Linked DNA regions of Homo sapiens: all the other regions are linked to region 3. Evidence: fine-mapped expression QTL. A gene starts in region 3. Each other region holds a variant in brackets. All regions are shown on one strand. Distances are from middle to middle. Region 1 overlaps MGLL (monoglyceride lipase). Region 2 overlaps PODXL2 (podocalyxin like 2). Region 3 holds the start of MCM2 (minichromosome maintenance complex component 2).

What was found.
Region 1: its variant is fine-mapped to the expression of MCM2 in subcutaneous fat (GTEx, PIP 0.94).
Region 2: its variant is fine-mapped to the expression of MCM2 in aorta (GTEx, PIP above 0.99). The same link has a PIP of 0.9 or more in skeletal muscle and tibial artery.

What each region holds. Positions count from the first base shown.
Region 1 is chr3:127,758,406-127,760,905 of GRCh38, forward strand. All of the region lies in intron 3 of MGLL (monoglyceride lipase), which reads right to left. Among named protein-coding and RNA genes, the nearest start is that of MGLL, 63 kb to the right of the region's middle. The variant T/C (reference allele first, on the strand shown) is at 1,418.
Region 2 is chr3:127,635,564-127,638,408 of GRCh38, forward strand. The region is part of intron 1 of PODXL2 (podocalyxin like 2); the gene reads left to right. Among named protein-coding and RNA genes, the nearest start is that of PODXL2, 7.8 kb to the left of the region's middle. The variant A/C (reference allele first, on the strand shown) is at 1,521.
Region 3 is chr3:127,596,621-127,599,436 of GRCh38, forward strand. MCM2 (minichromosome maintenance complex component 2) reads left to right here and starts at 1,791. Exons shown (of 16, transcript NM_004526.4): 1 at 1,791-1,852; 2 at 2,698-2,816. The coding sequence starts at 1,847. It also overlaps a transcript of TPRA1 not described here. RefSeq lists enhancers at 1,469-2,426, 1,780-1,899 and a silencer at 1,930-2,089.

The DNA of each region.
Region 1 (2,500 bases), 160 kb after region 3:
GTTGGTAACTGGGCATCAAGCTAATACATTATAGACTGAACGAATGAATAAATACACGAATGAGGCTTGGAGATGTGAAGGAGCTTGCAAAAAGTCAATAGCTAGAAGTTTTTCAAGCTAGACAGAAGCCCAGGTCAGCTTGGCCCTCTTAGAGCAGCCCCTGAGCCTTGTATAATTAAATGGTGTGTTCCGTTGTTAGTGCTGACAAAGTGCCAGTCTCCTTTCCTAACAATTCGGCTGTACCGAGCGAGGAGAATGGGGGAAGTCACCTGTAATTTTCTTTTCTGTCTTCCCCTTTAAAAGGGTCTTTAAAAATCAGATATGTGTTATAAAAAACAATGGGATAATGGGTCGATTTTTCATATCATGACAAGCAATTGCTAGGGAGAAAAATATCATTCTTGAAAATGTGCAAAAGTGCACTGGCTGTAAGTTGTAAACATGACCCTCACAGGAAAGGATATTCTGGGGGCTCCTGGCACCTATTTCTTTCTTTTTCTTTTTTTTTTCTTTTCTTTTCTTTTTTTTTTTTTTTGAGACAGAGTCTTGCTCTGTTGCCCAGGCTGGAGTGCAGTGGTGTGATCTAGGCTCACTGCAACCTCTGCCTCCCAGGTTCAAGTGATTCTCCTGCCTCAGCGTCCTGAGTAGCTAGCTGGGATTACAGGTACATGCCACCAAGCCTGGCTAATTTTTGTATTTAGTAGAGATGAGGTTTCGCCATGTTGGCCAGGCTGGTCTTGAACTCCTGACCTCAAGTGATCAACCTGCCTCGGTCTCCCAAAGTGCTGGGATTACAGGCGTGAGCCACTGCGCCCGGCCCTGGCAGCTATTTCTCACAGCGTCCATTATTATAAACCAGCTCTCCTATTCTGTGACCCCAGCAACTGAGACACAGAGTCAGGCGGCTCTCAACCCTTCTCTCTGCTATGCGTGACCCTGGCTAACATCTCCAACCTCTGCGGGACTGTCCTTACCCCTCCCTTGGTCCCCTACCACACCTGATGTGACCAAGGCTCTCAGCACCGTGCCTGGTACACAGTAGATGCTCACTGGAGGTGGGTGTGCCTCTCTTCTGAATCACGTGCTCAAGAGGGATGTCTGTGTTCACCTGCGGCCATTTAAAAATCTCAGCTGTGGGCATGTTCTCATGTCTCACTGCACCTTCCCCTGCTTAGAGGTCATTTTCCAAGGAAGGGAAGAGAGAATGTAATTCACAGAAGCAGTGCCACTTTACAGAGATGCTTTGAGCCCAGAGATCCCGATGACTTCAGAGACTCTTGGTTCTCGTGTGGACTGGGAGGAAGGAGTGGCCTGATGCAGAGCTCCTACCTGCTCAGATCAGCCCAGCTCCTTCTCCCTCACTCAACACAGGGTCCTTGGAATCGGTCCCTTTGGCCTTCAGATGATTCTCCTTTTT[T/C]GGTAAGAAAGCTTCCACTGAATAAAACCTTTAAGTGATTTTTCCAATCTGGTGGCGTCTGTACAATAACTGAGGAGAGAAATAATTATGATTATGGGGTCTGAATGATCCAGCACTTCTCCACGACTCTGAGGAGGAGGCAGCTGGCCCCTGCCTCTCACATTGACTGTCTTTGCGGGCAGGCCCTGCTTAGACGGCTTGGTTTTCTGCGTTGGAGAAAGGAAGCCAGTGGTGTAGCAGGGAGAGCGCTGGATGTGCACACAGCTTTCAAAGAAAAGCAAAGGAAAGATGACGGGAGGGAAGGGCAGAGCCACACAGGGGTGGAAGCATCCATTTATGGGACATTGAGTTTGTGTGGGGTCCTATGAGCTAACGTTTCCATAGGAAGCCTCAGGCCTAACATACAGATGGGAAATCTGAGGCTCAGAGAGGTCAAGTGACTGTCCTGGACACACAGGTATAAAGAGTAGGCCAGGCCACTCTGCCTCCACCCAGCAGGTTCACATAACAGAACTCTCTGGGCTAAGCTCCACTTGTCAACAGGGGACCAACCCCTCTGGGCTCACACCATGCCACACAGGGCACGTGGGTGCTGAGGAATGAAGGTGAAAGGACCTTGTTCTCCCCCTGCAGTCAGCCCCGATGCTGGCTCTGTCCCTCATCCAGGCTCAGGCGCCACCTCTGGGAGTCAGAGCATCTTCTAGCAGAGCCTTGGCAGGAGGCGAGGTGAGGAGCTGGCACGGCACCCCTGACAGACTGCGCGTCGCAAGCTATTCCTGGAGCCGCTGCGGCACTTCTGTCAGATGATGCAGAAACCCCAGGGCCACTCGCCTGGGGGCTGTGCCCCACGCCAAGCTGCTCAGAGGCACAGCACTGATTGGGGGGCGCTGGTCCAATGGAACCTGCGGCTCTGCACCCCAAAGCATTTTCCCAAAAGTTAAAACTGTAGCAAGGTGCAAGTGTGTAAGAATTTCAGTCCGACTTTGCCCCCTAATGACTGTGAGCTTGAATAAATCAGGCAGCATCTCTGAGCTTGTTTCCTCCATAGGGACGTTGCCTGCCTTACTCTGCTGCCGTAGGATT
Region 2 (2,845 bases), 39 kb after region 3:
TAAATCACCCCAAAATTTAGTGGTTTCAGATTCTCAGTTCTTAAGATCTGATCCCTGGACAGAAGCATCACCTGGGAACTTGCTAGAAATGCAAATTGTTGGGCCCCGTCACAGACCAGCTGGATTCAGAACTCTAGGGTGGGCTTAACAGTCTCTGTTTTAACAAGCCCTCATGGTGATTCCATGCTGGTTCAAGTTTGAAAGCACTGGATTAAAACGGTAGCCATTTATTTAGCTCATGATTCTGTAGTTTGGCAATTTAGGCTGCAGTCAGCTGGGTGGTTCTGGTCTCAGCTGAACTCCTTCAAGTTTGTCATCAGCTGTTTATCACCTTTGCTGGTCTTGTCTGGCTCTCTCACTTTGGGACTTCAGCTAGGACACTGAGCTGATCTGGCTCTCTTCTGCATGGGCTCCTGTTTTCCTGCAGGCTAGCCTTGAGCAGAATCCTGAGAGAATGGAAGCGTGCAAGGTATCTTGATGCCTAGCCTTGGAAATGGCACATCATCACTTCTGCATTGTCTTGTGTAGCAACTCACAAAGGTAGCTCAGATTCAAGGAGTGGAGAATTAGATTTCATCTCTTGATGGGAGGAGCTACAAAGTCTCATTGCAAAGATGTGTGTTATTAATTGGGAGTCATTGGATAACCCCTCTCAGGAAGAACCTTAAGAAGGTACTGTTTTGGGGTAGGACAGGGCACTCTGTTTCTTTCCCATCTACCTAGTAGGGGATAGATACTGCTTTCTTCTATAATATTCGGGCTAGGAAAAAATCCAAGAGTAGCTTAGGGTCCCCCCGTGATGTGAAGGGGAATTAGAGTGGAAGAGGTCATGGGAAAGTCTTGAGCTAGAGAGAGTACAAGTCCTTAATTCATCCTCTCCCAGGAACAAAGGGGAACTTCAAGGGGAGTGGACCCCAAATTGATTGTCTTGGCTTTCTCTGCCTTTTAAATACCTTTGGCTCAAAGAAACCACAAAATATGAGATGGCTGTTTCTCTCTTTGAGTCAGGGATTCAGACACAGGCTCTGGGAACATGACTTCAGCTTCGTGGAGCCAGGCCCTGCCTGGAAGCAGAATCTTTGTCCGTGGACATGGTGCCTAGGACAGCAGAAGACATTCCGGATGGGGTGTGATAGCTTCCTGGTTTGGACTTGGCAGAAGGCAATCCCCTGTGAGCAGTCCTCAGGAGCACTGGCAACACAGCAGTGCCATTGGCTCCCACCTGCCCAGGGTCACAGCTTGCCCACCCTTTAGGTATTTTTTTATTTTTATTTTTTTGAGACAGAGTCTCACTCTGTCGCCCAGGCTGGAGTGCAATGGCACCATCTTGGTTCACTGCAATCTCTGCCTCCCGGGTTCAAGCAATTCTCCTGCCTTAGCCTACCAAGTAGCTGGAGACTACATGCGTGTGCCACCATGCCCAGCTAGTTTTTGTGTTTTAGGAGAGACTAGTTTTGCCACATTGGCCAGGCCTGTCTCGACCTCTTGACCTCAAGTGATCCGCCCGCCTCGGCCTCCCA[A/C]AGTGCTGGGATTTACAGGTGTGAGCCACCACACCCAGCCCCATCCTCTAGTTATGATGATACTTTCTAAAGCTGAGAGTTGGGCCTGTGAATTATCTTATTGAGAGACAGAGCTTCACGGGATCTTAGAGGTTGGCACAGACGTTTACTAGCCCTGGTCAGATGCTAAGGCTCTGATGCCTCCTTAGCCCCGGCGTTGGCTTTGAGGCCATGTAGAATCACTCTGATATTCTTATTCACATCAACCTTTTGTTTTAATGTATTTGAAGATACCATGGTCTCTTTTAAATATTTTTTTCCCCGGGCCATGAACTTCACAGGTCTCTGTTTTTTATATAGGATAATAACACAATATTTGTAGAATAGTTTGGTTTGTAAAGCTCTTTGTAGAGCAGCTTTCACACATGGCTCACCAATTACCTCATTTGGTGCCCCTCACACTGGAGGCATGGTAGGAATTGGTGTCCTTATTACACAGAGGAGGAGAGCAAGGCTGGTGGTGGTGAAGTCACTCAGCCAGAGAAGCCAGAGTGTAACCTATTTCCTGGTACCAGGCTTTCTCTCCTGTTATATAGAACATCTTCCTGTCTCTGACCTCAGGGCGTCTCTCTTACCCTGGAGTCTCTACTTCCCATCCCCCATCCACACAACCCAGAATACACCCCTGTGGCTGGATGTGGCATTATTGGCTGTGAGTTGTCTGGCTGCTGCACAGTGTGCACAGACTCCCTCATACGGAGACTCACAGGACAGTCTGAAATGCTCATTTTTTTCAGTGGCCAGTCACAGTATTGGCACGTATCAAGCTTAGGGCCTGCTCAGCAAAGCACATGGCACCAATAATATTAGCCCTATTTTTATTATAAGCATCACTAAAAATTGCCATGTACTGTAGTCAAGTCAGGTCACAGTACACATCTGGTGTAGAGCAAGAGGAAGACTGTGAAATTCCCTCTTCCCTAGATCCTTAAGTGTTAGTCTTGGAAAAGAATTCAGAGGTCATTTCATTTAGCTTCCTTGTCTATCTGGTGAGGAGACTGAGACCCAGAGGTCTTGAGCAGCTTTCCAGGAGCCTCACAGCAAGTTAGTAATTTGTGTGGTTAGGTCATTAAGTTAGAGGTTAAGTTGTGAAACTGGCAAATAGGGCTATATTCCTGTCCTTAAAGAATGAGAGTGAAAGAAGAGGAAAAAGGCCTCCTTTAATTTGTTTTCCTGTCCATTTATTTGCTTGTTTTGGTAAATTAGGAGAGAGAGAGAATCCAAGATTCTAAACAAATATGTCAAATTACCAGCACTGGGTTGAGTTTGAACTGTGACCTCACGTG
Region 3 (2,816 bases):
CATACATGGATATCCAACAGCTTCCTGGATATGTCCCCTCGGCCCAAATTCAGCACAGCCAGAAACAAACTCATCTTCTTCCCCCTTAAATTGCTGGTCTTCCTGTGCGCTCCTATCTCAGCTATCATCCACCTAGCTAAGCCAGGATCCTGGTGTCATCCTGCATGCCTCTTTTGCTGTCCTCAATCACCAACACCTATAGACCCCACTTCCTGGCCGGGCGTGGTGGCTCACGCCTGTAATCCTAGCACTATGGGAGGCCAAGGCAGGCGGATCCACTTGTCAGGAGTTGGAGACCAGCCTAGCTAACAATGGTGAAATCCCATCTCTACTAAAAATACAAAAATTAACCGGGCACAATGGCGTGCATCTCTAATCCCAGCTACTCGGGAGGCTAAGGCACGAGAATCGCTTGAACTTGGGAGGTGGAGGTTGCAGTGAGCTGAGGTTGCACCACTGCACTCCAGCCTGGGTGACAGAGTGACTCTGTCTCAAAAAAAAAAAAAAGATTCCACCTCCTAAACATCTTGTATTTCCAGTTCTCTCCATCACTCCTGCCTCCCTACCCTGGGTCCCAGGCAGAGATGCTTGTTCACTGCACAAAGTGCCTGGCTAAGAGGGTTGCGATTCAGCCCTGCCTCTGCTCACTAAGGCTGCCTGGAACTAGACAAGAACCACAGCAACCTCCTCGTTTGCTGCCTTCAACCTCGTTCAATCCACTTCCACCTGGTAGCAGCCAGAGGGATTCTAAAACCCACACTAGTTCACGTCTCACCCTGCTCAAAATGCTTCCATGGCCTTCCATTGCTTTCAGAATACAGAATAGTCAAACTCTCTAGAAAAACATCTAGCTCTTTTTTGATCCGGATTTTCTCTCCCTCAAGTCTTGTCTGTTGCCCGGCATCATAAGCTCCTAGGGTTAGTTCTTAGGGAGGGGCTTGCACATCCGGGCCCTGCCATGACCTCTGCAGCTTTGCACATGGCATCCTTCTATCTGTAACATCCTCCCTGCGTCTTCGCTCCCCTGGGCAAAGATAACTCCTACTAAAGCCTCAGATGTGACCTCCTACAAAATCCCAGAGTTGTCCAGCTGCTTGAAGTATTGAGCCTTTGAGCTTTGGGAGAAGTTAAACCATTGTGCTCCTAAGACGGTAAGAAGCGTCAGAAAACCAGGCTCTGAACCTCTGCTGTCTTTTTTTTTTTTTGAGACGGAGTCTCACTCTGTCACCCAGGCTGGAGTGCAGTGGCGGGATCTCGGCTCACCGCAACCTCCACCTCCCAGGTTCAAGCGATTCTTCTGCCTCAGCCTCCCGAGTAGCTGGGATTACAGGCCCGTGCCACCATGCCCAACTAATTTTTGTATTTTTAGTAAAGACTGGGTTTCACCATGTTAGTCAGGCTGGTCTCGAACTCCTGAGCTTGTGATCCGCCCACCTCGGCTTCCCAAAGTGCTGGGATTACAGGCGTGAGCCACCGCGCCCGGCCTCTGTTGTCTTGTCAGCAAAATGGCCCTGGTGTGACCGAGGTCACGCAGCCAGCAAGTGTCGTCGGGTCCCCTGGAGCCTCAGCTTCTACCTCCGCTCCAGCTCCCACCACAGCGCAGGCGAGCGCACGCGCACAGCGCCGGGCCGCACACCTCCGGGCTCTGGGCGGAGCGCCTCGGGCGTTGTAGGCGGGACCGGACCCTCTGGCCCGCCCCTCCGTGTCCCTTCTGGTCGCCAGTGGACGCCGACGTCATGACGTCGCGTTCCGTAGGGCTCTTCCCGGGCTTTGGTGGGTCACGTGAACCACTTTTCGCGCGAAACCTGGTTGTTGCTGTAGTGGCGGAGAGGATCGTGGTACTGCTATGGCGGTGAGCGCGCTGGCGCGTGGCGGGCGGGCGCCGGGGACATGGGTGCGGAGGCTGCGCGCTTCCCGTACTCTGGCCCCGGCCCAGGGCGGCGCTCTGGGTGAGGCTGGGCCCCAGGCTCTGGGGCGCAGCTACTTTCTCGCCTGCACCCTGCGTGAGGCGACTCGCCTACCTACCACTGACCTGGGGCCCTGGGCTCCCTAAGGCGAGCTCGGCCCGTTCAGCCTCTGTCCTTTATTCACCCCACACATACTTATTGGGCGCCATCTGTGTGGCGCTGAGCGTACAAAAGACAGGCCCCCATTTCACTACACTCCTTTAAACTTTTTTTTTTTTTAATTTCCCAATGATCCTTGTTCCAAACACTACACTTACTTTTGTATTACCTTCTTGTCCCTTTGTCTTGTATACTGTCTGTTCCACATCTGAGTTCCAGACCTCTTGTTTTGGTGGCTCTTCTATGCCATCTCTATCACAATACCTTGCGCACTGTGTGTGCTGAAATAGGTCTAATGCTTAAGGGGAGATAATAGACAGTAAACAGGTAAATAGGCAAATGACATAACCTCAGTGGTTTTTCATGGAGAAAGCACGGTGATGTGGGTGACCCCGATATTTGAGCTGGCTTCTATTTGTTTGGAAGCCACTGACTCAGATTGCTCAGCTGAGAGCATTCCAGGTGAGAGAACAGCAAGGGCAAAGATCTGGAGGCTGGAAGGGGTTTGGTGTGTTGGAGGACAAGAGTCACAGGTGGAGAGAAAGAAGGGAAGGCCCCTGATGGTAAAAAGGAAGCTGTATCATGCCTCACCAGCTTCCTAGGTTTCTGACAACCGCACCTTCTCTTGCAGGAATCATCGGAATCCTTCACCATGGCATCCAGCCCGGCCCAGCGTCGGCGAGGCAATGATCCTCTCACCTCCAGCCCTGGCCGAAGCTCCCGGCGTACTGATGCCCTCACCTCCAGCCC